Linked DNA regions of Homo sapiens. The protein of the gene in region 1 purifies or fractionates together with the protein of each later gene. This does not show direct contact. Each region holds a gene or a part of one and is shown on either strand. Other genes may lie near its edges.

What was found. The genes of interacting proteins can lie anywhere in the genome.
Region 2: the proteins of GET3 (region 1) and GET1 purify together in Homo sapiens (co-immunoprecipitation; 3 studies listed by BioGRID and IntAct, with this or other methods). This does not show direct contact.
Region 3: the proteins of GET3 (region 1) and BAG6 purify together in Homo sapiens (co-immunoprecipitation; 5 studies listed by BioGRID and IntAct, with this or other methods). This does not show direct contact.

What each region holds. Positions count from the first base shown.
Region 1 is NC_000019.10:12,733,618-12,740,512, forward strand, and holds the start of GET3 (ATPase GET3), read left to right. Parts: upstream 1-3,879; 5' UTR 3,880-3,888; coding exon 3,889-4,049; intron 4,050-4,893; coding exon 4,894-5,041; intron 5,042-6,895. Other genes in the region: TRIR (telomerase RNA component interacting RNase), read right to left, coding at 696-1,040.
Region 2 is NC_000021.9:39,375,793-39,383,342, reverse strand, and holds the start of GET1 (guided entry of tail-anchored proteins factor 1), read right to left. Parts: upstream 3,018-7,550; 5' UTR 2,959-3,017; coding exon 2,857-2,958; exon of another isoform or gene 2,821-2,856; coding exon of another isoform or gene 2,791-2,820; exon of another isoform or gene 2,422-2,790; intron 1-2,421. Other genes in the region: GET1-SH3BGR (WRB-SH3BGR readthrough), read right to left, coding at 2,857-2,958. UniProt on the Homo sapiens protein: Required for the post-translational delivery of tail-anchored (TA) proteins to the endoplasmic reticulum (ER).
Region 3 is NC_000006.12:31,649,645-31,656,928, reverse strand, and holds the start of BAG6 (large proline-rich protein BAG6), read left to right. Parts: upstream 1-4,267; 5' UTR 4,268-4,505; exon of another isoform or gene 4,506-4,529; intron 4,530-4,538; exon of another isoform or gene 4,539-4,694; intron 4,695-4,757; exon of another isoform or gene 4,758-5,063; intron 5,064-5,152; 5' UTR 5,153-5,165; coding exon 5,166-5,273; intron 5,274-7,284. Other genes in the region: APOM (apolipoprotein M), read right to left, coding at 303-457, 849-962. UniProt on the Homo sapiens protein: ATP-independent molecular chaperone preventing the aggregation of misfolded and hydrophobic patches-containing proteins.

The sequences.
Region 1 (6,895 bases):
AATTGAGAACCACCAGTTTAGCCCTTCCTGGAAGACAGGCTCTGTGCTAACCACTTTTCCAGGATCACCTCATAAAACCCTCACCACATCAAGAGATGCTATGATGTCTATTTTTGCAACTAGGGAAAATGAGGGTAGGCAAACCCAGAGGCTCCAGGAAAGCAGCGATCTTGTCTGTAAGCTCACCACTGCATACCAGCACCTAGCACAATGCCTAGCACGAGGTAAATTGCTCAATAAATGGAGGTTGGTCGAATAAGATACAAGGAAGTCAAGCAATTGTCCTAGATAAGTAATTGTCCTTACATAGTACGTGGTCTGAGTCTAACACATATAGCTCAGAGTCCAGACTTAAATTTACTCCCTTTCCTCACAATTAGTGGTGGTCCCATGACCCAAGGTCCGGGTACCACTCAAACAGGAATCCTGATATCCACGTTTCCTCATTCTCCACAGTGCTGATTCCTAGGCAATTCCTCAGCTCCCAGTTCCCACGGGCAAGCTCCTGGAGTCCCCACTCCCGCCCCTAGACCCCAGTTGTCGGGAATCCAAGTTCCACACCCTCAGCGGGTGACCCGGACGGGCCCCTCATTCAGAACGGAAAGTGGACTTCGGTCCCGATCCCCCTTCACGGGCCCCGACTCCCGCTGCCAAGACAGGCCGTGGCGCCCGCCCCCACCCCCACGGCTCCTTACGAAGCTAAGTGTGGAGCCCGGACCGCCCTTCCTCTTCGGATCCCCGGGGCCAGCGGCGGCGGCCGACTGGTCGGGTCGCTGCGGACCCGGGGGCGGCTCCTCCTGCCGCTGCCGCTGCTCCTCCTCCATCTTCCGCTTGAACAGCTCCAGGAAGCTGCCGTCGTTGGCGAACAAGTTCACGCCGCCCGACACCGGGCTCGAACCCGCGCCCGACACCTCCTCGTCCCCGCTCTCGGGCGACGTCCCCGATCCCGACTCAGCCCAACGGCTCCCGCCACCGCCACCGCCCGCGGGGCCCGGAGCCTCCCGGCCCTGAGGCTCCGCCCGTCTCCCTCGGGCAGCCATTTTGTCGCCAGGTGCCGCGCAAAGGACTCCGGGAAGGCCGCTCCGGCCCCGCGCTTGGCGCCCGACTCGCCTCGTCCCGAACAATGCATGCCGGGAAGAGCGGTCAGGCCCTCCAGCGCCCGCAGCGGGGGCGGGGCGAATGAGGGAACCAACCCGAAGGGGCGGGGCTAGGGGGAGGAGCCCCCGTCTCGCGGGTTTTTTTGTTTCGTTTTTTTTTTTTCTTTTTTTTTCAGACGGAGTTTCCCTCTTGTTTCCCAGGCTGGAGTGCAGTGGCGCGATCTCGGCTCACCACAACCTCCACCTCCCAGGTTCAAGCGATTCTCCTGCCTCAGCCTCCCGAGTAGCTGGGATTACAGACATGCGCCACCACGCCCAGCTAATTTTGTATTTTTAGTAGAGACGGGATTTCTCCATGTTGGTCAGGCTGGTAATCTCCCGACCTCAGGTGATCCGCCCGCCTCGGCCTCCCAAACTGCTGGGATTACAGGCATGAGCCACCGCGCCTGGCCTTGTTTTTTAAAAATTAGAGACGGGCGCCTGGCTATATTGCCCAGGCTGGTCTCGAACTCCTGGCCTCAAGCGATCCTCCTGCCTTGGCCTCCCCTCCCAAAGTGTTGGGATTACAGGCGTGAGCCATCGGGCCCAGTCTTGCTGTTTTGGTTTTTGGTTTTTTGTCTTGTTTTGGAGACAGAGTCACACTCCGTCTCCGAGGCTGGAGTGCAAAGGCATGATCAGGGCTCACTTCAGCCTCGACCTCTCAGGGCTGAGGCGATCCTCCCACCACAGCCTCCCGAGTAGCTGGAAACACAGGCATGCGCCACTACGCCTGGCTAATTTTATTTATTCATTTATTTATTTATTTATATTTGTGGAGACGGGGTTTTGTCATGTTGCCCAGGCTGTTCTCAAACTCCTAGGCTCCAGCAGTCCTCTTACCTCAGCCTCCCAAAGTGCTGGGATTACAGGCGTGAGCCACCGAGCCCTGCCTCTCGGGTTTTCAAAATTCAGCAGTACTCAGGCTGGAGTTCCCCATACAGGGGCTCCCGGAGAATGAGACTGTCGTCTGAGACTGGGGCTGTAGCTTGCTCTCTGGAGTTGGTTTCACTTGGGGCTAGGAACAGATTCGCTTTCCAGGGCTAGAATCCCCGTCTGACGACACCAAGAATAATCTCTATGAGTGGAAGGACCTCATCTGGGGCTGTGTGCTCAGCTGACACCTGGGAACTTGAATCCCTAACTGGGGAATAGAGAGCATGTCTAGTCTGGGCCCCCCAAGTAGAAATAGGGGTATCTTTGGGTTGGGTAACCATCTCTGGGATAAAGCTCACATTTGTTGGGGACATAGCTGGCTCTGTGGAGCTGAAGTCCCCGTCTGAGAATCAGCTTACTTTTTTATTTTATTATTGTTATTATTACTTTATTTTATTTTGTTTTATTTTATTTTTTGAGACGGAGTCTCTCTCTGTCGCCCAGGCTGGAGTGCAGTGGCGTGATCTCGGCTCACTGCAACCTCCGCCTCCCGAGTTCAAGCGATTCTTCTGCCTCAACCTGGTCTCGATTCCTGACCTCGTGATCTGCCTGCCTCGGCCTCCCAAAGTGCTGGGATTACAGGCGTGAGCCAACGCGCCCAGCCTATTTTATTTATTTATTTAGAGACGGAGTTTCACTCTTTCACCCAGGCTGGAGTGGAGTGAAGTGGCGCAATCTCGGCTCGCTGCAACCTCTGCCCTCCGGGTTCAAGCGATTCTCCTGCTTCAGCCTCCTAAGTAGCTGGGATTACAGGCGCGTGCCACCACGCCCGGCTAATTTTTGTATTTTTAGTAGAGACAGGTTTTCACCATCTTGGCCAGGCTGGTCCCGAACTCTTGACCTCAGGTGATCCACCCGCCTCAACCTCCCAAAGTGGTAGGATTACAGGCGTGAGCCACCGCGCCCGGCCCGAGAATCAGCTTATTTTATGAGCTGTAGTATTCAGATGAAGTCGGGGTTATTTCTAGTCTGTAGTCTCCCTCTAAAGTTAAGAGTGTCATGGGCTGGGGTCTCCATCAAGGGCCTGGAACCCAGCTTCTGTTCCTGCTCTAAGACAGAGGTTCAAACATGAAATATGGTATACTGGAGTCTTCTCTTGAAATACAAGGAGACTTTTAGGAATTCCTTCTACGAAACGGAGCGCAATTGCAGGAATGGTGTCTGCTAGGCATGGGAGATCAGGGCGTACAGGACAAGACTCTGTGGACTCGCCCACTCTAAGCCACTATCAGCCCGGGGACCTATCGCCAACCGAGTCAATTCGTCTATGATTGGTTTGCGGCAAGAGCCAAGAGGCTCACAGCCTATTGAATAACAGAGGGGGCGGACCTGAGGTGAGGTTGGGACCTACCGTGAAGAATAGAGGGAAAATGATGGACATAAAGTTGAGCCTATGGAGTCAGGCCAAGGAGGACCGGGAATCTAACTTCACCGAAAGGGCATGGACTGGGTGTTTGGCTGGTTGCTAAGGTGAGGTTGGCGCTACCGGAACATAAGAGTGATTGGTGTAAGTAAGAAAAGACATAGCCAATGAAAGGAGAGCTGCAAGACCTAGGGCCCAATCAGTGAAAGGGAGTAGCCTAGACCGTACCGATGTGTTCATTAGGTAGGGGGAACCCTTGGAAAATTATAGACCAGAGGTTGACAAAGTGAACCCTGGAAGCAAAGAATAGTGAAAATATAATTTATATTTCTCCTAAAAGGCAAGTAATGAGGAAATTAACTCATGCTCCTAGCTTCGCTAGGAATGTGATAGAGAATTTCCCCTGTAGGTTCTTCGTATGGTGCGCTCCGCTGGATCACGTGAGCCAGTTCCAAAATGGCGGCAGGGGTGGCCGGGTGGGGGGTTGAGGCAGAGGAGTTCGAAGATGCTCCTGATGTGGAGCCGCTGGAGCCTACACTTAGCAACATCATCGAGCAGCGCAGCCTGAAGTGGATCTTCGTCGGGGGCAAGGGTGGTGTGGGCAAGACCACCTGCAGGTAAGGAGGCTGCGGCGGGGGCCAGGAGGCGTGTAGGATATACCACTGGGCGAAGGGGAGGCCAAGGACCGGCTTTTCCACCACGACCGGGGCATGGGGGCTGGCGGGGGTCTTTGGGTTTCACTCTCTGGAAGTTACCTGGAGCAAATGAGAAAGACCTCAATGCAGCCCTAGCACCCTCTGAGTTGGACCATCCGTGTTGGGGCTCAAGTGCCGAACCACAGTGAACTCAGCGCCCGGGGGACGGGGAAGCACTTAGATATCCCCATCAGCTGGACCGTACCTGAGTGAATCCAGAGTTGTGGGTGAGGGCGGCACCAGAACAAGCAATCCTAGTTTGGTGAACCTTGGTGTTTTATGCCCAAGGCGAGAGTGAGGGTGGAAAGCGAGGGAGAGAGCACGTGATGAGACTGTCCCAGGCAGCTACAGGCAGGAGGTGTCCGTTGGACAGATTATCCTGGACAAGCAGACTGAACCATCCTGTGCTTACTAGGGAATGCAGGAGACCCCTTAGCTTATTAAGGAAGGGGGCACGGAGTCAAGCTATGCTGGCTGGACCGCTGGGCCATGCCACTGTGCCCAGCAAAAAAGAAGCAGGCACTAGGCCAGACAGACTCAGTCAGCTGAACCTTACCTCTCTAGTCCACATAGAGGGGTCAGGAGATAAATCAGAGAGGGTTCCTTTGTAGGGACTGAGGCTCAATCCCACCATAACCCATACTCTCCTCTCAAGGCCCCTGCTGATTCGGGTCACCTGCTCCAGGGAACCTACCACTCCCCTTGCAGACCCAGGGAACAGAGCCCATCCCCTCATCCCCTATCTTTTGACTTTTCCATTACTCAGCTGCAGCCTGGCAGTCCAGCTCTCCAAGGGGCGTGAGAGTGTTCTGATCATCTCCACAGACCCAGCACACAACATCTCAGATGCTTTTGACCAGAAGTTCTCAAAGGTGCCTACCAAGGTCAAAGGCTATGACAACCTCTTTGCTATGGTGAGTGGAACAGGGCTTAGCCCCCACTTCTGGGAAAAGCCTCTTCCAGCCTTTCTTGTGCGCACACACCAGCAGCCACCGTGTCCTATCCACTCTATATCCTGTGTCTCTCGTGTTTCACTCCTTCCTCAACATACTCACAAGGGAACCAATGAGGAATTGCAGAGCAGGAAGCACACCAGAGTGCCTGAAGCTTAGTGAGCCAGGGTAGGGGAAGGAGAAGTTGGAGAGACCAATCAGAGCCACATGGTGTGGGACCTTATGGGCCACTAAGAAGTTTGGCATTGACTCCAGGTTATTAACGGGAAGCTGTTTGTTTTAAGCAGGGCAATGTCGTGGCCAAATTCATGTTTGAAAAGTACCCTTTGACGGCCAGGTGGAGATTTAATTGTCAGTCAGGGTAGAAGCAGGGAAACTAACAAGGAGATTGGGGGTGTAACCAGTTGAGAGATGACAACATCCTGGACTCTGGTGGAGGCAGAATGTTGGGGGAGAAGTAGTCAGACTTGAGGTTTTTTTTTTTTTTAGACACTCAAGACTCCTCTGTCTCCCAGGCTGGAGTGCAGTAACCCGATCTAGGCTGACTGCAACCTCCGCCTCCCAGGTTCAAGCAATGCTCCTGCCTCAGCCTCCCGAGTAGCTGGCACTACAGGCTTGCGCCACCACTGCCTGTTAATTTTGTTTTTTTTAGGAGACAGGTTTTCACCATATTGGCCAGGCTGGTCTCAAACTCCTGACCTCAAGTGATCTGACTGCCTCGGCCTCCCACAGTGCTGGGATTACAGGCATGAGCCACCACATCGCACCAGGGATGTATTTTGGAAGTAAACCAGTAAGATTACTTGGGTGAGAAAAAGAAATGAATTGATTACATGTCTTTCTTGTCTCTCTGAGCAGCTGGGATGGGGAAAACTAGGAAAGGAGTAGGTTTAGAATGAACAAATAAAGAATTTCATTTTGTCCACAGTGAATCTGAGTTGCCCACTGGAAATCCAAGTGTAAACATCATGACAGTAGCTTGTTTATGTGAGTCTGGAGCCCAGAGGAGGTTGGCATTGATTTGGAAGTCACTGTCTCAAGGGTGGCATTTAAAGCTGTGTGAGGGCTGGGCATGGTGGCTCATTCCTGTAATCCTAGCACTTTGAGAAGCCAAGGTGGGCGGATCACTTGAGGTCAAGAGTTTGAGACCAGCCTGGCCAACATGGTGAAACCCCATCACTACTAAAAATATAAACCAATTAGCTGGGCATGGTGGCAGGTGCCTGTAATACCAGCTACTCAGAAGGCTAAGGTAGGAGAATCGCTAGAACCCAGGAAGCAGAGATTCTCCTGCCTCAGCCTCCGGAGTTGCTGGGATTACAGGTGCCTACCACCATGCCCGGCTAATTTTTGTATTTTTAGTAGAGACGAGGTTTTCTCACGTCTCAAAAAAAAAAAAAATTGGCTGGGCGCAGTGGCTCACTCCTGTCATCCCAGCACTGTGGGAGACCGAGGCGGGTGGATCACAAGGTCAGGAGATCAAGACCCTCCTGGCTAACACGGTGAAAGCCCATCTCTACTAAAAATACAAAAAATAGCTGGGCATGGTGGCAGGCGCCTTTAGTCCCAGCTGCTCAGGAGGCTGAGGCAGGAGAGTGGCGTGAACCCCGGAGGCGGAGCTTGCAGTGAGCTGAGATCGCGCCACTGCACTCCAGCCTGGGCGACAGAGCAACACTCTGTCTCAAAAAAATAATAAAGGCCGGGCACGGTGGCTCACATCTGTAATCTCAGCACTTTGGGAGGCTGAGGCGGGCAGATCACAAGGTCAAGAGACTGAGACCATCTTGGCTAACACGGTGAAACCTCATCTCTACT
Region 2 (7,550 bases), on another chromosome or scaffold:
GCCATTGCACTCCAGCCTGGGCAACAAGAGCAAGACTCTGTCTCAAAAAATAAATAAACAAAATAAAATAAATAATAAAAAAAAAAATAGGCTGGGCGCGGTGGCACAAGCCTGTAATCCCAGCACTTTGGGAGGCCAAGGCGGGCAGATCACAAGGTCAGGAGATCGAGACCATCCTGGCTAATTCGGTGAAACCTCGTCTCTACTAAAAATACAAAAAAATTAGCCGGTTGTGGTGGTGGTGGGCACCTGTAGTCCCAGCTACTCGGGAGGCTGAGGCAGGAGAATGGTGTGAACCCGGGAGGCGGAGCTTGCAGTGAGCCGAGACTGCGCTACTGCACTCCAGCCTGGGCAACGGAGCAAGACTCCATCTCAAAAAATAAAAATAAATAAAAAAATAAAAAGAATAAATAAATAAGAAAACAAAATACATGTTGAAGGATATGGAGCAACTGGAACCCTTCTGCACTGCTGGTGAGAATGTCGAATGGTGTGGCTGCTATGGAAAACAGTATGGTGGTTTTTCAAAAAAATTCAACATAGAATTACCATAGATTCAGGAATTCCACTGCTGGGTATATGTCCAGAAAAACTGAAAGCAGAGACTCAAAGAGATATTTGTAAACATTTTAGCATTATCTACAATAGTCAAAAGGTAGAAACAACCCAAGTGTCCATAGACAGATGAACTAATAAACAAAATGTGGCCTATACATACAATGGGATACTATTCAGCCTTAAAAGGGGAGGAAATCCTGACTCATGATACACCATGGATGAACCTTAAGGATATTATGCTGAGTGAAAAGAAGCCAGTCACAAAAGGAAAAATACTGTCTGATTCCACTTATATGAGGTCCCAAGAGTAGTCAAATTCACAGAGGCAGAAAGTACAATGGTGATTGCCAGGGAGAGGTAGGAATGGAAAGTTGTTGTTTAATGAGTGCGAGAGTTTCGGTTAGAGGAGATAAAAAAAGTTCTGGGATGGGGCCAGGCGTGGTGGCACACGCCTGTAATCCTAGCACTTTGGGAGGCCAAGGAGCACAGATCACTTGAGGTCAGGAGTTTGAGACCAACCTGGGCAACATAGTGAGACCCCGTCTCTATTAAAAATACAAAAATTAGCCGGGCATGGTGGCAGGTACTGGTAATCACAGCTACCTGGGAGGCTGAGGCAGGAGAATCGCTTGAACCTGGAAGGTGGAGGCTGCAGTGAGCCAAGATCAGGCCACTGCACTCCTACATAGGCAACAGAGTGAGACTCTGTCTCAAAAAAAAAAAAAAAGAAAATGTTCTGGGAGCGGGGCCACGTGCAGTGGTTCACACCTGTAATCCCAGCACTTTGGGAGGCCAGGATGGGTGGATGGCTTGAGGTCAGGAGTTTGAGACCAGCCTGGCCAACATGGCAAAGCTCTGTCTCTACTAAAAATACAAAAAAATACCTGGGCGTGGTGGTGCATGCCTGTGGTCCCAGCTACTTGGGAGGCTGAGGTGGGAGGATCACTTGAACCTGGGAGGCAGAGGTTGCAATGAGTCGAGATTACACCACTGCACAGAGCCAGACCCTGTCTTAAAATAATAATAATAAAGTTCTGGGATAATGGTTGCACAAAAATGTGAATGTACTTAATGCCACTGAACTGTACACCTAAAAATGATAAAGATGATAAACTTCATATTATGTGTATTTTACAATTAAAAACAAGAAGATGAGCATGGGCCAGCTCATCAGGAGTCTTTTATGCAATGCCTGAGACATCATCTTAAAGACTGGATAGCATCAGGAAAGATTCTGAAGGAGACTCAGGGGTTAAAAGAGAATTCCCTATATCTCAGGACAATGCAGACAGTAGGACAATTGAGAGAGTAAGAATAGAGTTTTGCACAAAACAGGCACTCAATGAATACTGGTGGAATAAAATATCCTCCACTACTACCAATTTATCTTAGGAGAGAAAAGCAAGAACTGTTTTCCAAGACAACGCTGAAACGAATGCGCCCAATCTTTGAGGACTCCGCCTTTGCCCAACAGCTCCTCATTTCTGCTGTGGGCATACGGAGGGCGCTCATTCTCGGGGACAGTTCCCAAGGTACCCCCGCCTTCCATGGCCACACCCCACCACGCCCTGTCCAATTTGCCACCAAATCCCTATCCCTGCTCCAAAAGGCAATCAAATCTCCACCTCCAGTCACTAGGTGGATGACTTAGTGCCACCACTAAATTCTCTTGAGCCAGACTCCTCCGGGAGGTAAAGGAGGGTGGGATGATAATACTCGCCTCTCCCAGCAGCCGTGAGACAGAGGTAATGTACTCACTACCTGGCAGAAAGAGAGTGTTCCCCAACCTGGTTGCTCCCTTGGATACTGAAGGCATCACGCTGTACTGAGATTCTCTCTACACCTGTCTCCCACCCTACCCACCCCAAGAATGTGGGCTCCTGGACGCGAGGATCCATCTCTCCGGGACCTGGAACAGCTGACTTCGCCCGCCAGGCCTCTGGGAAACCCTGGCCGAGGGCTGCTCGAATGCCTCTAGGAACCAGGATTAACGGAAACGAGGCTGACAGCGGGGCACTAGGAACTCCCAGTGTGAGGTTCGCCGCCGCCACCCACAGCCAGAAGAGTCCAGGGTTGCCCGGTGTTTCTCCCAACCCCCTAGAACCCAGAAAGTCTGATTTTGGGGTAAAGCGTCGTACCTTTTAGACGCTAACAACTATCTCAAAAAAGCTTACGGACCAACCAAGACGCTACTACGGCCTTCAGTCGCCCAGTTGAGACCCCTGTACCTACGCCAGACCCGCCGGGGGACTGGGGCGGCATCCCCACCGGCCCTTGGGAGGCCAGGCAGCCACTTACGAAGGATGAGAAGGACGGGAGGAGGATCCTAAGAACATTGCATCCAAACACGAAGCTGAGCACCAGCAACCACGCCCAGTGGTCGGCCGCGGCTGAGCTCATCCCGGACGCTCCTGGCTGTGCTGGGTCCGCTACGGCAGCTCCATGGGGACCACAACAACAGCGGCGACCGCGCCTGCGCGGTGAAGCCAAGCGCCCCAGAACAGGCGCGCCGACGCGCCTGCGAACTGCGTCGCCCTCGCGGGAGGCGGGGCCGTTTTTTCGTCCGGCTCCAGTTGGAGCGGTTAACACGTTCCGGGTTTCTCCTGGGCCTTCGGCGGTTCCGTAGCCTTCTAGCACCCATCCCTACTGAACCAGTTTTCTGACGTCCGTGTTTCTTTTTTTCCTTCTTTTTAAAATTAAAAACCTTCTCATAGTACCAAACTCTGGTTTCAAGTGCTAACGACTCCCTGCTTTTGTCATAATTAGTACTTTCTTTAAATTAACTTTTAATTCTAGATAAGTTTAAGAAAAACTCTTCCATAAATAGAAAACTACCGTTTTTATAGTAGCAGGTAACTGTCGTGTTCCAAGCAGTTACATGGAAAATGCCTTACGTTTTCGTTCCAGATCTAAACACTGTAGTAAGTCTAACCAATTTACACAACTGCATACCTGAAAAATAAGTTTAATAGAATGCACTGTTCACAATCATTAGTAATAGTTAATAAATTAACCTGAATCTAGGTGAAGATCAGGTTTTGCAGCGAAAGAATCCCAACTCAAATGTATGCAAAGTGAGCAGGGCGAGGTGGCTCACGCCTGTAATCCCAGCACTTTGAGAGGCCGAGGCGGGCAGGTCATGAGGTCAAGAGATTGAAACCAGCCTGGCCAACATGGTGAAACCCCGTCTCTACGATACAAAAATTAGCCGGGCGTGGTGGCGCGCGCCTGTAGTCCCAGCTACTCCGGAGGCTGAGGCAGGAGAATCGCTTGAACCCGGAAGACGGAGGTTGCAGTTAGCCAAGATCGCGCCACTGCACTCCAGCTCTGGCGACAGAGCGAGACTCCGTCTCAAAAAAAAAAAAAAGTATGCCTAGTGGATAAAGCAAGACATGTTCAACTGTCTCTTCTGCCATGCTGCCATGACTGGTTTCTGAGGACTAATTCCTAATCAAAATGATGCAAGATTGCGGGTACACTGGCTCACGCCTGTAATCCCAGCACTTTGGGAGATCCAAGCAAGGTGGATCACAGGCCCAGGAGTTTGAAACCAGTCTGGGTAACATAGTGAGATCCCCATCTCTACAATAAAATATAAAAATTAGCCGGGCACTGTGGCACGTGCCTGTGGCCTCAGCTACTAGGGAGGCTGAGATGAGAGGATCGCCTGAGCCTGGGAGGTCGAGGCTGCAGTGAGCTGTGATCACACCACTGGACTCCAGCCTGGGCGACAGAGCACAACTCTGGCTCATTATTATGAACCAGTTAAAATAATTATGCGGCTGGGCACAGTGGCTCAAGCCTGTAATCCCAGCACTCTGGGAAGCCGAGGCAGGTGGACCACCTAAGGTCAGGAGTTCGAGACCAGCCTGACCAACATGGCAAAACCCTGTCTCTATTAAAAATACAAAAATTAGCTGGGTGTGGTGGCGGGCACCTGTAGTCCCAGCTACTCAGGAGGCAGAAGAAGGAGAATCGCTTGAACCTGGGAGGCGGAGGTTGCAGTGAGTTGAGATCGCACCATTGCACTCCAGCCTGGGTGACAAGAGTGAAACTCTGTCAAGAAAGAAAGAAAGAGAGAAAGAGAAAGAGAAAAAGAAAGAAAGAAAGAAAGAAAGAGAGAGAGAGAGACAGAAAGAAAGAAAGAAAGAAAGAAAGAAAGAAAGAAAGAAAGAAAGAAAGAAAGAAAGAAAGAAAGAAAGGGAAAGGAAAGGAAAGAAAGAGAGAAAGAAAGAGAAAAAGAAAAAGAAAAGAAAAGAAAGAGGCTGTGGTTCTACAAATTTCTGTGTCAAGAAAACATGTGAAGCAAAACTATTCTGTAGTGGTAGAGTGAATTCCTTCCCTGAAAGGACTTATTGGTTAAGTGACTTCTGAACTGACCAAAACAAAGAGCAGGAGTCTGGCTCTCCTCCATAGCCTTCCCTTCCACCTGGATGGACCACGCAGCACGGCAGCCAGGCTCCTGGCTCCTCTCTCACTGGAGATTGAGATGGATTTAGAAGGAGAAACTGCCTCTTGAAAAGTGATGACAGGCCAAGCATGGTGGCTCATGCCTGTAATCCCAGTATTTTGGGAGGCCGAGGTGGGTAGATCACCTGAGGTCAGGAGTTCGAGACCAGCCTGATCAACATGGTGAAAACCCATCTCTCCTAAAAATACAAAAATTAGTCGGGCGTGGTGGCGCATGGCACACGCCTGTAATCCCAGCTACTCAAGAGGCTGAGGCAGTAGAATCACTTGAACCCAGGAGGCGGAGATTGCAGTGAGCCCAGATCACACTGTTGCACTCCAGCCTGAGCAACAGAGAGACTCAATCTCAAAAAACAAGAAAAAAAAAAGGAAAAGTGATGACAGCCCCGACCCCACTGGACCCCTTTCACCCGCCCCCAGTCTCTGCCTCTGGCTAAAGAGAAGTCCACTACCACACCCCACTGCCACCTATCTTCAGGAAAAGGATTACCTAATTCCTGGACAGTCGAGAACTCCTAACAAAAAAAAAACCCTGGAGCATGTCCTCAACTTTGCAGCAGCGGTGGGAGAGAAGCAGCAGCACCCGGGCTTCACAGGCAACCCAGTCTGAAGAACTCAACCCTCTCCTGTTGCTTCCTGTGAGCAGCACTTCACAAAAGCACCAACAATGGAAGGCGGAGACCCTCTTCCAACACATGGAAAGCAATGTGAGAGCCAGGGTGTTTCAGCATGAGTCAATCTACATCTAGCACAGGTTAAGATAGTAAACAAAGCTCATAACAAGAACAAGACTGTTCATTTCTTAATGCTGCTGTAACATATTACCATGAACTCAGTGGCTTAACTTTATTATCTCACAGTTCCAGGAGAAAGATACCTGAAATGAGTCTTATTGGGCTAAAAATAAAAGCAAAGCTGAGTTCCTTCTGGTGGTTCACGGGAGAATCCATTTCTTTGCTTTTTCCAGCTTCTAGAGGCTGCCTGCGTTCCTGGTCTTGCATCCCTCTTCCTTGTCAAATCCAGCAGGCACAGTTCTCTGACTCCTGCTTCCATTGTTACATCTTCCCTGGCTCTCCTGCTTCCCTCTTTCACTCTAGAAGAATCTTTGTGATTATACTGGATCCATGTGGCTAAACCAAAATAATCTCTCCATTTAAAATTGTTAACTTAATTACATCTGCAAAGTCCATTTGCCACAAAAAGTAACATATTCACATGTGCTGGGGATTAGGTTGTGGACATGGTGGGGGGACAGTATTCTGCCTACTGTAAATACCATAATCATTCGTGAAAATGAACCAAGATGGCAGCAAGAGAAACTCCACAGAGAAGAAGCCTATTACTGGTTTATTAATGAACATGGTGTTGGTTGCCAGAGGAAAACCATAAGCTTCCAAGCACTACTGGAGAAATAACATCAGTTGCTTCCAATCAATCACTGTTCGATGGATCCAGGCACATGCCCCACCTCAGCCTGACCTGAGAATAGGGTAATTGGGACATATGTCAGAGGCTCAGGAGTCCCTAAAAAAATTTCAAATAGAGAATCTTTTTAAAATGTCTGAACACCTTTTATTGCACATAAAATGCACCTTAAAGTGGACAAGATGGGAACCAAACATTGAAATCTGTGAGTTGAATAAATCCAGTGAAGAGTGTTGGCTTCAGCCAGAAATCAATATAAATCATGAAAATAAGTGGATTTTAAATTCCTGGTCAAAGGCTGGGCACGGTAGCTCATGCCTGTAATCCCAATAGTTTGAGAGGGTTTTGAACCCAGGAGTTCAAAACCACACTGAGCAACATAGCAAGACTTCGTCTCTACAATCAATTAATTCCTGGTCAATGTGATATGGGTATTCAACTCTTAAACCCCAACAGAAATGATGACCTAAAAACAGGTGCTGGCTGGGGGCGATGGCTCACGCCTATAATCCCAGCACTTTGGGAGGCCGAGGTGGGTGGATCACCTGAGGCTGGGAGCTTGAGAGCAGCCTGGCCAACATGGTGAAACCCCATCTCTACTAAAAATACAAAAAATAGCTGGGCATGTTGGCACACACCTGTAATCCCAGCTACTTGGGAAGCTGAGGCAGGAGAATCACTTGAACCCAGGAGGCGGAGGTTGCAGTGAGCCGAGATGGCACCATTGCACTCCAGCCTGGTGACAGAGTGCAACTCAGTCTCAAAAAAAAAAAAAAAAAAAAAAAAAGAATGTTTACTTACAATATAGGAAAGATTAGAAATGAAATTTGGAATCAATAGGCAAGTTCTAGACCTATTGCTCTGCATGCTAATTTACTTAGTGGTTATGCAAGCCAATCAGATAGTAGTGAATTCAGGCAAAAGAAGGAAAACCATTTGGAGAAGCACATATTTGGGGAAAATAGTGCTAGAATCATTATTACAATGAGAAACACAGTTCAGAGACTAGAGCCAACAAGGTTACATTATACCTTAAATAATCAAAGTTGTTGGCCAGGCATGATGGCTCATGCCTGTGATCCTAGCACTTTGGGAGG
Region 3 (7,284 bases), on another chromosome or scaffold:
GTGATCTGTCCGCCTCAGCCTCCCAAAGTGCTGGGATTACAGGCGTGAGCCACCACGTCTGGCCTGTCCCGGCTTCTATTTACTCCATTGTATTTGTTATTGAAGCCCAGCTCTCCTTGGGTTTCAAGCTACCAAGCATTGGTTAGGCACATCTTTCTCCAGAGGGCAATTAATACAGCCACTGAATTCCGTGGGCCAAGCATAGTAGATATACCAGCTAAGAGGCCAGCTCTTGGTGGGTGGATTCTCACACTTTGGGCAGAGACTGAACCCAGTGATGCTTCTGCCTCCTTACCACTCACATGCGGATGGTAGCACGAAGGTGGAGCTGCATCGGGGCAGAGCCAGCAGCCATATTGAAGACAATGTTGTCCACAGGGTCAAAAGTTGCCAACTCCTCCTTGGTGGGAGCTGCCCCTGCGATAAAGTACCACTGGCCCAAGTGGACCTCTGGGAACTGGAGAGACAATGAAGGGAGCAAAAGAGGGTGGGTTCCAGCACAGGATGGGTTCAACCTCTTCATCAGTCAAAACAGCAAGATTTAGGGGTAGAGGTGTTGGCTGCCTTCCTCTTTCCAACTGGGGATTGGATCCATGACAAAGAGTCATTAAATGACTTTTCCTCTTTGCCCCTCCCCAGTCAACCTGGGTAACCACCCCACCCCCCAATTCTGCCATGCCTCTGCATTGATGGCCACAGTACTGATATTTTTCTTCTTGCTTTCATTATCACAACACTCACACCCCCTTCCTCTCTTCCTTTCCCAAGATGGTCTCCAGTCATCCTAGGCCATCCACCCAAGTCCCTCAGAGCCTCCACCATAGGCTTCCCCCAATCTCAGTCCATACCTCCTTCCCATCCACGCCCAGAGTTGTCAGTTGACTGTGCTCAGGGCACTGGTAGATGGAGTTAAGGATAATACCATAGAAGTAGAGCAGAGCTGCCCAAATTTGGTGGAACATCTTCAGGCAGGAGGGAGCTGGTGCTCTGTGTGCCTTAACTGCTCTCTCCCCTACTGGCTGCTCAGTCCACTCTGCTTTCAGCTCCCTTGCGTTCGACCCTTGACCCTTTCACCTGCTAATGAGTAACTTCAACCTTGTTTTCCAACCCAAACCTGGATTACTTAGTGTTTGGGACTTCCTCCCCCTCTTCCGGATGCAACCACTCCATAGTACACCCTGGCATGTCCAGGGTTTCTCAGGAGTTATGAGGAGAGCTGAGCTGTCCAGGGAGAAGCCTGTGGTCTTTGAACCTGTATCTGAGCTGGTTATTTGTTGCACTGTGCAGCACTGAAGGGAAGTAGCTTGACTGGGCCTCTCATTCATTCACTTAGCAAACTGTTTTGAATCCCAAGTCCCAGTTGTTTCCCAAGAACTAGCTAATCCCCGGGGACATAAAAAAACGAATAAGACATAGCCCCTGATCTTGAAGAAGTCGTTAGAGGGAAAACTAGCTGTGTAGACAAACCATTGCAATACAACTTGGTAAATGCTTTAGAACAGGTATGATGCAGGTGCTGGGGCACGGTGGATTGCTCTCTTTAGTTTACAATTAGAAAAATATGTATACCCTGGCAGTGTTCACTGACACATTCACTCAACATTTATTACTACAAAGAGGCTATGTAATCTGGCTGTTAGAGAGGATAGATGTTGGTGTCAGGCAGAATGTGTCCAAACCCTAACTACAGGCAGGGCAGGTAGCTCATGCCTGTAATCTCAGCACTTTGAGAGGCCAAGGTGGGCGGATGGCTTGAGCCCAGGAGTTCAAAACCAGCCTGGGCTACATGGCAAAACTCTGTCTCTACAAAAAATACAAAAATTAGCCGATGTGGTGGCACACGCCTGTAGTCCCAGCTACTAGGGAGGCTGAGGAGGGAGGATTGCTTGAGCCTGGGATGTCGAGGCTGCAATGAGCCCTGATTGTGCCACTGCACTCCAGCTTGGGCGACAGAGACTCTGTCTCCAAACAAACAAAACACCACCAACCCCTAACTGCTATGTCTGTTTTTTCATCTGTAAAATTGGCAAATCATCAATCTTATAGGATTAAATGAAATAATGCACATAAAGCCCTTAGCAAAGACTTGCACATGGTAAGTCCAAAGTATATATTTGCTATAATTAATAGTAATGTTTGCAAAGCACTTAGTTTCTGGTGGGTAATAAGTTCTCAAATAATAGGCAGTAAGAATTGCCAAATAGGTTGTCCTTGGATAGCACCAAGTGACTGGAGCAGTTAATGCTGTGAGAGATGGATCTTCCTCGATAGATTATTTATTTACTTATTTATTTTTAAGACAGGGTCTCACTCTGTCGCCCAGGCATGACTTTGACTTCCCCGGCTCAGATGATTCCCGAGTAGGAGGTATAGGTGCACGCCATCACGCCTAGCTAATTTTTTGTAGACACGGAGTTTCACCATGTTGCCCCAGGCTGGTATTAAACTCCTGAGCTCAAGCAGTCGGCCCACCTTAGCCTCCTAAAGTGTTGGGATTACAGGCATGAGCCACCACACCTAGCTTGATAAATTTATATCCCATGGACTGCCACAAAAAATTTGCCGAGGGCTGAGGCTTGCGATTTAGTTAAAAAACAAACAAAATTTGGGTGACCAGTATATTAGAGTTTATTAATACTGTTCTATTTTGGTGTAATGTTTGAATTTTTTTTTTTTTTTTTTTGAGATGGGAGTCTCGTTCTGTTGCCCAAGCTGGAGTGCAGTGGCGCGATCTTGGCTCACTGCAATCTCCACCTCCCGGGTTCAAAGCAATTCTCTGCCTCAGCCTCCCAAGTAGCTGGGATTACAGGCGCCCGCCACCACGCCAGGCTAATTTTTGTATTTTTAGTAGAGATGGGGTTTCACCATTTTGGCCAGGCTGGTCTTGAACTCCTGACCTCGTGATCCACCCGCCTCATCCTCCCAAGTGTGAGTCACTGCGCCCGGCCGAAAATTTTTGTAATAAAAAGCTAAAATGTGGTTAGGCACAGTAGCTCACACCTATAATCCCAGCACTTTGGGAGGCCAAGTCTGCAAGACCAGGCTGGGCAACATAGCAAGACCCCATCTCTATAAAAATAAAATTAGCCAGGTGTGGTGGTGTGCATCTGTGGTCCCTACTAGGGAGGCTGAGGTGGGAAGATCGGTTGGGCTCGGGAGGCAGAGGCTACAGTGAGTTGTGATTGCGCCACTGCACTCCAGCCTGGGCGACAAAGCGAGACCCTCTCTCAAAAAAATAAGCTAAAATGTTAACAGCTTTTTATTGGGGCAGTAAAGTACAAGTGCTCGATCTGGAGTCCTGTAGGCCTGGATTTGTCAATTCTGACACTTATGTTCGTCTAAGTGTACTCACTTAAAAAATGTTAAAAGCTCGTTAAAAGGCTTTTTAAAATAATACACAAAACCCGTAGTATATGGGCTGGCACAAGTGCTCATTAAACAGCTGCTTATTAGAACTCTTAACTAAAATATAACCAGGACCTGGGTATAAACTACGAATCCCAGAAAGGTTGGACACCCCAACAGCGATGTGTCTTTCTGGAGGACTCGCAGTTTCGCGGGGCCGAGGCCCTTGGCCCAGGGCAGGTTAAGAGAAGAGGGCACGGAGAGGCGGTAATGCCTCCACCCCCGGCCTTCGGAAGCACGCTGGCCGGCCTTTAAATTCCCCACGGTCAGGGTCTTGTCTTTCTGTCCACTCGGACTCCATTTGCTCCCAATTCTCAAACTCGGAAGCGCCTCTTTTCTTGACAAGTCGTGCAACTTAGTAGCACGTTTACTTTTCCTAAAACGTGTCATGTCCCCTTGGCCACACACCGACGAATGTGACGCCCACAGCCCTTAAAACGCCCACCCGGCAGAACCGAAATCTAGCCCAACCAAGCAACCGAGAACAAAATTGACCAGTGCCGCCCCCAAACGCCTACTGAAAGAGTAACTTCCGGAGGCACAGAAGAAAGGGCGCAGCGAGGGCAATAGGGTGGAGAAGAGTTTTAGCTGGCTAGGACAGTGCCGCCTGAAATTATCAGCCTGCCAAGATTTAAACATAGATGAATGTGGCATAATCCCCCATCTCCAAAGTCCAAGGTCCATACGACCGTCCATAGCCCCTCTCGAGGCAGTGGTAGAGTCCCAGCTGGTGACTGTTTTTCAGGCATTTACGGTAGCCACCTCAATCTTCTAGCGCTCAAGCGCGCGCACAGACGTGAACGCCGCCAGAGGGGGGAGGGGGTGGGGCGATGCTTAAGTGTCCACGCATCCGTAGTGCGACGCACGCAGGCGTAGTACGGTCCCCCGGGCGACAGCGGTGGCGGCTCCTCGGGGTGCTCGGCTCCCTCCCACCTAGGCCGGCCCCGGCCCGACTCGCCCTCAGAAACTCACTGTTTGGGGCTGCGGACTTTCTCGTCGTGCCCCACAAAAGTAAAGCTTGGGGACCTGGGGGGAGCCGGAAGTATCGCTTCGAGATCCCCAAATACTATCGGGGAAACGGAAGTGGCCGTCGGTGGCAGGTTTGGGGGAGACCGGAAGTGACGGTCCGTGGGGAAGTCGGGGGCGGAGCCGCGGGGTGGTGGGTGTGTGTGTGTGTGTGTGTGTGTGTGTGTGTGTGTGTGTTTGGCTGTGGGTTAGTTGTGCCGTTCTGCTGGAACACCGTGGGAAGGCAGTAGACGCGGGCAGTCAGCTAGCAGGTCTGTCGCCCCGTGAGTGCCGTTTCGGGTCTATAGTGAGTTAGGAGGGTTCGATGGGCGTGGCGCGCGTGCGCGAAACCACTTTCTCCGCAGAGTGTGGGGCGACCACCGCTTTCGCGTTGTCCCAGGATTTTCCGACCTCTGGGGCGCTTGTCCTGCCGTGACCGGTGATGACACTAGTCTCTGGTCTCGTGCTTCCTTCCTAATCTGACTGGCTCCCTGCTTATTGTGATTGGCGTCGTGGAGCCCCTCCCACCTCTCGTCCTCCAGCTCCCTAAGCCGTCGATCTCCTGCCCTTTGTGTTTCTCTCCCTGTGCCCCGGAATCAGAAGGGGGATGGGGACAGGTGTGAATGTGTGTGTGTGCAGGAGAAACTTTTTAGGTATTGGGGCAGGGATTAATGCTAGGGAGTCTTTCGGGTACACTCTGGTCTGGGCAACAGCGGGCCTTCCTTCCTTCGTTCTTCTTTAGAGACCTGTCGGCCATGGAGCCTAATGATAGTACCAGTACCGCTGTGGAGGAGCCTGACAGCTTGGAGGTGTTGGTGAAGACCTTGGACTCTCAAACTCGTACCTTTATTGTGGGGGCCCAGGTGAGACACCTCACTAGTTCTGGAAGACACCTTTAGCTTTTCCTCGTTTAGGCCCCTTAGCCTGAGAGATGAGCTTGATTTTCTGGTCACCAGATTTTCTTTTTTTTTCTTTTTTTTGAGATGGAGTCACGCCCTGTCTTCCAGGCTGGAGTGCAGTGGCGCGATCTCGACTCACTGAAACTTCCACCTCTTGGGTTCAAGCGATTTTCCTATCTCAGCCTCCTGAGTAGCTGGGATTATAGGCGTGTGCCACTATACCCAGCTGATTTTTGTATTTTTAGTAGAGACGGGGTTTCACCATGTTGGTCAGGCTGGTCTCGAACTCCTTACCTCAGGTGATGTGCCCTCCTCGGCCTCCCAAAGTGCTGGTATTACAGGCATGAGCCACCGCACCTGGCCTCAGATTTTATTTTTATTGATCCCTTTGTTCGTATTCCAGTAGAACGTTTTCTGATGTTTTGTGAGTGAGGCTGATTTTGTTCTGTCCTCCACATGGATAGAACTTAATGCAGAGGGAAATACAGAGGAAGGAAGAATCTGTGTGTCATCATCATGGGTGGACCCCAACCCAAAGGGACAGGCATGGCTCTGGCCTTTGGGAAGGGAAACAGCACAGGAACCCTAAGCAAGTGTGTCTTACTGATAGACATTGGTCAGGTCTATGCTGTGTTCTTAAAGGGTAGAAATCAGAACCCATAATGGAGATAGGTCCTTGATAGACTGTTGAGTGAAATTACTAATTTTTATGGCATAGCTTGAGTCTCTTGAGCTTAAAGCCTTGGACATAGCTATCTGTGTCTTTACTCCTGTAATACTTGGAGACAAATTGCATGTGGGGTGGTCCATGGTTTTCTAAAATGTGATATTACCTGGATATAAGAAAGCCATATATAGACTTGTGATTAGATGTATATAAATACTCTGGTACTTCCCAAGAGTCAGTTTGTAGTTAGGAAAAATATTTCTCTTTTTGCTTTTTTTTTTTTTTTTGAGATGGAGTTTTGCTCTTGTTGCCCAGGATGGAGGGCTGGGGCGCAATCTCAGCTCACTGCAACCTCTGCCTCCTGGGTTCAAGCAATTTTCCTGCCTCAGCCTCCTGAGTATCTGGGATTACAGACGACGCCTACTACCACGCCCGGCTAATTTTTGTATTTTTAGTAGAGACAGGGTTTTACCGTGTTGGCCAGGCTGGTCTTGAACTCCTGACCTCAGGTGATCCACCTGCCTCGGCCTCCCAAAGTGCTGGGATTACAGGTGTGAGCCACTGTGCTGGGACCTTTTTTGCTTTCTTATCTTCTTAGTCTTTCTTCATTAACCTGATACCAGACCCCATCTTCTTTGCCATTTTTTAATCTTGGAAATCACAGGAGAGTCTGGTAAATAAACTGGTATCATCTTGTGTTTGGAAAGGGGTCACTGATGTCTCTAGACACATACTCCCTTGGATGCCAGACAGATAATATAATGTCCATGTGTTTTTTTTTTGTTTTTCATCCGTGTTATTTTTCCTGGATCTATAACCTGAGCTTCATTAAGTTTATTTATTTAATTTTTTGAGATGGAGTCCCTCTCTGTCACCCAGGCTAGAGTGTAGTGATGCGATCTCGGCTCACTGCAACCTCCGCCTCCCGAATTCAAGTGATTCTCTTGCTTCAGCCTCCCTAGTAGCTGGGATTACAGGCGACCACCATGCCTGGCTTATTTTTTTGTATTTTTGGTAAAAAAGGGGTTTTACCATGTTGGCCAGGCTGGTCTCGAACTCCTGACCTAATGTGATCTGCCTGCCTTGGCCTCCCAAAGTGCTGGGATTACAGGTGTGAGCCACCGCGCCAAGCCAAATTTATTGTCTGTATTTTGACAGCTGTTACTTTAGTTTAAGGGTTTGCACAGTAATGATCTCACGGTCAAGACAAACGGGTAGTGATTCTGTGGTGGTTTTTACCCCTCACCTCCACAACTCGGTTGTCTGTCTTTGTTCTTCCTCTTTCCTCCATTCTTTCCATTCCTGTGC